Homo sapiens: one gene and its partner. The protein of the gene in region 2 purifies or fractionates together with the protein of the main gene of each other region. This does not show direct contact. Each region holds a gene or a part of one and is shown on either strand. Other genes may lie near its edges.

What was found. Proteins that work in one complex are often made in the same cells at the same time.
Region 1: the proteins of NUP37 (region 2) and NUP85 purify together in Homo sapiens (affinity purification with western blotting; 4 studies listed by BioGRID and IntAct, with this or other methods). This does not show direct contact.

Annotation. Positions count from the first base shown.
Region 1 is NC_000017.11:75,215,679-75,219,178, forward strand, and holds part of NUP85 (nuclear pore complex protein Nup85), read left to right. Parts: intron 1-75; coding exon 76-145; intron 146-2,506; coding exon 2,507-2,628; intron 2,629-3,500. UniProt on the Homo sapiens protein: Essential component of the nuclear pore complex (NPC) that seems to be required for NPC assembly and maintenance. As part of the NPC Nup107-160 subcomplex plays a role in RNA export and in tethering NUP96/Nup98 and NUP153 to the nucleus.
Region 2 is NC_000012.12:102,075,115-102,078,614, reverse strand, and holds part of NUP37 (nucleoporin Nup37), read left to right. Parts: intron 1-1,111; coding exon 1,112-1,293; intron 1,294-1,767; coding exon 1,768-1,818; intron 1,819-3,500. UniProt on the Homo sapiens protein: Component of the Nup107-160 subcomplex of the nuclear pore complex (NPC). The Nup107-160 subcomplex is required for the assembly of a functional NPC.

The sequences.
Region 1 (3,500 bases), on a different chromosome or scaffold from region 2:
CTGCTTTATCCCTTGGCTCTGAGAGCAAAGCTCAGGAATCATTTCAGGTGAAACCTGTCCCCATTTCTTCCTTAGGTCTCCATTTTGTCAGCAATGGAGCTCATCTGGAACCTGTGTGAGATTCTTTTTATTGAAGTGGCCCCAGGTAGGCATGGAATATCTCACCATAATCTCATAGGTGTCCCCTTCCATCTTCTGCTCTTTCCTCATCTTTCCTGTGCATGGTGATGAGTGTTTTATTCCTGAGAATGTTCTTTCCATCATTATAACCACGGGAAGTCGTTAGAAAACACCCAAAGAAACCTGACCGTTTTGTCAGGTGCTGCAAAAAGAATCATGCAGAGTGCCTCCAAGAAACCTAAACCCTGACAAGTACTGAGAAATATTAAACTAGTGTGTGAAAGGGGGTGTCAGTGTTAACATCATGGACTGGCCAAGCTTAAGAAAGTTTTATGAATGTGGGGTAGGATTAGGTGGTGAGAGGCAAAGTCACATTGGGAATTCTGTCATGAATCATTGGGACAGGGCAACTCTGTGTGTTAACTCTGCCAATGGGTATGAACTCTGCCAATGGGAATTTTTCTGTTGATCTTTTTTTTTTTTTGAGACAGAGTTTCACTCTTGTTGCCCAGGCTGGAGTGCAATGGCGTGATCTCAGCTCACCGCAACCTCCACCTCCTGGGTTCAAGCGATTCTCCTGCCTCAACCTCCTGAGTAGCTGGGATTACAGACATGCGCTGCCACGCCTGGCTAATTTTGTATTTTTAGTGGAGATGAGGTTTCTCCATGTTGGTCAGGCTGGTCTCGAACTCCCAACCTCAGGTAATCTGCCTGCCTCGGTCTCCCAAAGTGCAGGGATTCCAGGTGTGAGCCACCGTGCCCAGCCTTCTGTTGATCTTGAATTAAACTGTGGTCAGTATAGTGTCATGGCCTGTATGAGCTCTCTGTGGATCTGCTGCAGCTTTTTTGCATTTCTTTTAAGGATTTATGTTTGCTATTTTCCATAAATGAGTAGTAACCTCTGTGTAGCCCTAGCATTTTATTCATACTCTCACTAAAGAAGTGAGGAACTTGAAATTAGAGTTGGTTGTTCAGAGGCCTCCCTTCTCCAGTGGATTTTTGAGGAGGTTACAGTTGGCTCTTTGTATCTGCAGGTTCTACATCATGGATACGGAGTGCTGGCTGTACTCTGCCATTTTATTTCATTTTATTTTTATTGATTGATTGAGACAAGTTCTCACTCTGTCACTTAGGCTGGAGTGTGGTGGTACAATCACAGCTATTGCAGTCTGGACCTCCCAGGCTCAAGCGATCCTCCTGTCTCAGCCTCCTGAGTAGCTGGGACTACAGGCACGTGCCACCATGCTAGGCTAATTTTTTGTGTGTATATGCTGGGGGAGGGGAGACAGGGTCTTGCTCTGTCACCCATGCTGGAGTACAGTGGCGTGATCACAGCTCAGAAGCCTCGACTTCCTGGGCTCAAGCAATCCTCCTGCCCAGCCTCCCAAGTAGCTGGGACCACAGGCCTGCACCACCACGCCCGGCTAATTTTTGTATTTTTTGTGGAGAGGAAATTTCGCTATGTTGCCCGGGCTGTTCTTGAACTCTTGGGCTCAAGCAGTCTGCCCATCTTGGCCTCGCAAAATGCTGGGATTATAGGCGTGAGCCACCATTCCTGGCTCGGCTAATTTTTTATTTTTTTTTGTAGAGATGGGGTCTCCCTATGTTGCCCAGCCTAGTGTCAAACTCCTGGGCTCAAGCGATCTGCCTGCCTCAGCCTCCCAAAGTGCTGGGATTACAGACATGAACTACCATGCCCGGCCATATGTTTTGTTTTGTTTTGTTTTTTGAGACAGAGTCTCACTCCGTCACCCAGGCTGGAGTGCAGTTGTGCGATCTTGGCTCACTGCAACCTCTGCCTCCTGGGTTCAAGCAATTCTGCCTTAGCCACCTGAGTAGCTGGAATTACAGGCATGCGCCACCACGCCCGGCTAATTTTTGTATTTTTAGTAGAGACAGGGTTTCACCATGTTGTCCAGGCTGGTCTTGAACTCCTGAGCTTAGATGATCCACCTGCCTTAGCCTCCGAAAGTGCTGGGATTCCAGGTGTGCACCACCAGCCCCCTGGCCCTATGTTTTTATCATCATTGCATACCTGGCTGCTTGCTATCTAGTCATTGTTGGTTCCTAAACGGCCATTACTTATGTAGCTATTAAGTATTTGTGAAGAATCTGGAGTGTGGGGTAGTGAGGTCTGCATTCCATGTTCACCCCTTTCTGGGGTCAGTTAAAGATGGAGCTGCCTGGCACAGAAGTAATATTTGGTGAAAGTGCATTTGCTTTTTCCTAGCACAGTCTGTCATTCAGGACCATGTGTGTGACTGCTTAAAAGGGATAAACCTATGTAGTCAGCTTGTCTGCCTTAAAGTTCTCTGTTCCTTGGATAAAGGAACTTGCTGCAGATGAAGCTGAGGCTTTTGTGTGTGATGAGAGTCTCTCCTCCCAGCTGGCCCTCTCCTCCTCCATCTCCTTGACTGGGTCCGGCTCCATGTGTGCGAGGTGGACAGTTTGTCGGCAGATGTTCTGGGCAGTGAGAATCCAAGCAAACATGACAGCTTCTGGAACTTGGTAAGACAGGCCGGGCCCCCACCTCCCACCATGTGTCCTACTGTCCCTGGTGCTGCCGGGTGGGTCTGAGGACACCCACTGAGCCTCCAGCAGTAGGCTGGCTTTTGGAGTCTGTTACTATGGAGACTCTTTTGGATCTTTTCTTCCCTGCTCTATGGGAGAGTCTAAAACCGAGGTACCATGTAAGAAAAATAATGCTTTGAAGACTTTTCCAGGGTAAAAGGAAATTTGATTTCTTTGTGGATCTAAGGAAGAGAAGACACAAAAAGGAATACAAAACCGTTTTTTTTTTTTTTTTTTTGAGACAGGGTCTCGGCTGGGTGCGGTGGCTCATGCCTGTAATTCCAGCCAGCACTTTGGGAGGCCAAGTCAGGAATCTCTTGAGCCCAGGAGTTTGAGATTAGCCTGGGCAACAAAGTGAGACCCTCCATCTCAAAACAAATTAATAAATAAAAATATAAAAGAGAAAAGATAGTCCGACTCTGTTCCCCAGGCTGTTGTGCAGTGGCCTGATCTTGCTCACTGCAACCTCCGCCTCCTGTGCGGTCCTACCACCTCAGCCTCTCAAGTAGCTGGGACCACAAGTGCCAACCACCATGCCTGGGTAATGATATAAAACCAATTGACAGGGGCTGGGGTGCATACAGGGTTGGATGTAAATGAGCTTGCACATTACTTTGGATCATCAGTTTCGAAGTCAGCATGTCGTATATGTGTATATGGATGTATTTTCTATGTGTTAGGTATTTCCATTCACCTCTGCTGACTGACCCAATTGGGAGGTGGCAGGGAGGAGATCGCTAGTTGACTGGGCTAATGGAAAGTCAACTAAACTTATAAAGCCTGAAATTGGGAACAGATTGTGAGGACAA
Region 2 (3,500 bases):
GCAGTCACTCAGCTTATAAGTGAAGGAAGCGGCGTGTCTGTGCTCTTTAACTATGCTGCCCTGCCTTCCATTCTAGAAACAAACTTCAGTTGCATAAGTATGTGTAACACATAAATGTCTGTCTCTCTTGAGAGATACATACTTAGCTATTCTTTCTAGACAATATAACTAACATAACTTAAAAGTAACTTTTCCCAGAAGGAATTGTTAAATTGATCTCTTCTTCTTAGTGACGGCACATCATCACTTAAAATTCTACCAAATCTCAAAATCTTTTTTTTTTTTTTAAAGAAGGAATTTCGCTCTTGTTGCCCCGGCTAGAGTGCCGTGGCACAATCTTGGCTCACTGCAACCTCTGCCTCTCGGATTCAAGCAGTTCTGCCTCAGCCTCCCGAGTAGCTAGGATTACGCGCATGCCACCACAACCGGCTAATTTTTTTTTTTTTTTTAGTAGAGACGGGGTTTCACCATGTTGGCCAGGCTGATCTCGAACTCCTGACCTCAAGTGATCTGCCCGCCTCAGCCTCCCAAAGTGCTGGGATTACAAGCGTGAGCCACCACACCCGGCCAAATCTTGAATTGTTTATCTTGCCAGTTTTCTCTAAGGTTTTTTATATTCTCTAGAGATTTTTACATAGCCTCTTCCTTTACATTTGATCTTCCATTTGTAATATAGGTTGAGGATCCTTATCTGACATTCTTGGAACTAGAAGGGTTTCAGATTTTGGAATTTTTTGCATTTTGTAATATTTGCATATACATGAGATACCTTGGGAATGGGACCCAAGTCTAAACATGAAATTCATTTATGTTTCATGTATACCTTATACACATGACCTGATGATAATTTTATATAACTTTTTTTAATAATTTTGTGCATGAAACAAAGTTTGTGTTAAGTGCTTATATGTGGAATTTTTCACTTGTGGTATCATGTTAGCACTCAAAAAGTTTTAGTTTTTGGAGCATTGCAGATTTTCAGATGAGGAATGCTGAACCTGTATATTGCAAATGTTTACATTTTACCGTACAACAGTGAATCTCTGCTTACACTTCAGGTATAGTTAGTGAGATAAGTGATTGAGTTTCTTTTTATTTTTCTGTCTTACAGCTAATGGTTGCAGAGAAGAATGGAACAATCCGGTTTTATGATCTTTTGGCCCAACAGGCTATTTTATCTCTTGAATCAGAACAAGTGCCATTAATGTCAGCACACTGGTGCTTAAAAAACACCTTCAAAGTTGGAGCCGTTGCAGGAAATGATTGGTTAATTTGGGATATTACTCGGTCCAGGTACTTTCTTGATATGTTTGTCTATTACACACCAAAAAAAGGCAGTAACTGTTGCTAAATGATCCACTCATCCATCCTGTTATACCTGAGACTATGCTGTCAAGCGAAAGCAAGTCTTTCCTATAGAAGGCCAGAGCTATGGATTTTTATATAACATAAACTTGCTATGCAGATTTACTCTGGGAGTAACCCAGAAAGGACAGTGCAAAAGAGGAAATCTTGGATCTGTGCAATGTTGACTTATATTGGAAAATAAGAAAAACACTGACCCTGTTGCATGATGGTTCCCTGCAGTGGTTCTAAGTCATGTCTTTATTGTATTTCATCTGTTTTAACTGATTGCTTGTTTAGGATTTATTATAGTTTAAACACATTGGACATTCTGTCCTATAAAGAGAAAATACTGTTTAAACCTTAAGTTCACCCACTTGAGTTTAACACATAATTCATAAAATGCAAAATATTATCTTTTAGTTATCCTCAAAATAAGAGACCTGTTCACATGGATCGAGCCTGCTTATTCAGGTAATGTACCGTTTTTGTTGGAGCTGTGATTTGATCTTTTGACGTTGCTGTGCCACCACTGGGATACTTTTGTAGTTCTCTTCTTTGCACTGGATTTTTTTTTTCCCTTATTGTTTTATAAGTGGTTATTTTACTTTCCCGACTAAGTCATTGCCTTTGTCTTTTGGTCTAGACAAGGAGTTGATTTGTTTTCCAAATATTTTCTTTACACAGAAAAACATGTAACCACTCCACCACTACCACCCCTACAATTTGGAATATATTATGCTTCCTGATTGTTCTGTGCTGTTAAGGATGTAAATGTAGGGGAGCCCATGTTCATGTATATAAACTTTATTATTATGTGTTAAATGAAACTATGCTAGATAGTATATCTCTGCGACATGTTTTTGCTTTTCACTTAAATTAACATACATGTCTACCTTGTTCTTTTTCATAATACTCCATTGTATAGTGTGGTCCTTAAGCCATTATTTCTGCTTTTTAAGTAACAGCAAAACCAAATAAGAGACTAAAACCAGTGAAATTTTATTATATGCTATATTCCAATAAGTTGTAGAACTTAGGGATACCATTATTAAGAATAAAATACATTCGACTAAATGTAAGAATGCCATGGATCGTTAAGATACATCCTGACTTCAGAGATGTGTGAACAAATATACACCAATGAGCAAGTATCCATCAATTTTAAAATCAATGAGCTATGGTACTTATAAGTCTAGAGGAGGTAGTCTCAGGGCTTGTTGAGCAGCTCATCAATGTCATCAAGAGCTCAGACCCTTTTCATCCTTTCCCTCTGCTATTCTCAGTGTCAAGGATTGGGACTTGTTGCTTCATAGTTACAAGATGGCTGTGAGAGTTCCAGGCATAAGAGAAGTACTCCATTTGCCGAACAATTAAACAAAAAAAAAAAAGTAAGAGGAGAAGAAGGAACCCTCTCCTTTTATGGGAGATTGCTATGACTGCCTTAAACTAATTATGTCTCATCCCCTAGGGTAGGACACACTGTGCCCTGAACAAAGTTAGGCTTCACTTAGCATGGAAAAGGGGCAGAATGGCTGTCATATTTGATGCCTTATTTGTTTCTTCTACCACACTATTACCCCTTTGGTTGTGAAAAAAAGGATTGTATCAACCTTGTGTAACTTTGGAACTTAATGAAATGACACAAAATAAGCACTTCATAAAACTTAAAGTATGAGAAAATATTTATGGAATATTTTCCTGGAATTCCCGGTCTAATTGTAAAGACATATTAACAAATTTAGGATTATTAAAATCACTGGTTTTATACAAAAAGAAACCTGTTTCTGTCTAGGTGCTATGGCTCATACCTATAATCCCAGCACTTCAGGAGACCAAGGCAGGAGGATCACTTGAGGCCAGGAGTTTGAGACCTGCCTGGGCAAGATAGCAAGACCCCATTCCTACAAAAAACAAAAAATTAAAACTTACCTGGGCATCGTAGTACACACCTGTAGTCCCAGCTACTAGGGAGGCTGAGGTGGGAAGATCACTTGAGCCCAGGAATTTGAGGCTACAGTGAGTTTTGTTAGCACTTCTGCACTCCAGCCTGGGTGACAGAGCAAGACCCTGTCTCTTAAAAAAAAAGAAAAAGAAAAAGAAAAAGCCCGCTTCAGAAAAGCTTGTCATTATCCATAGGATACGATACTTAATTT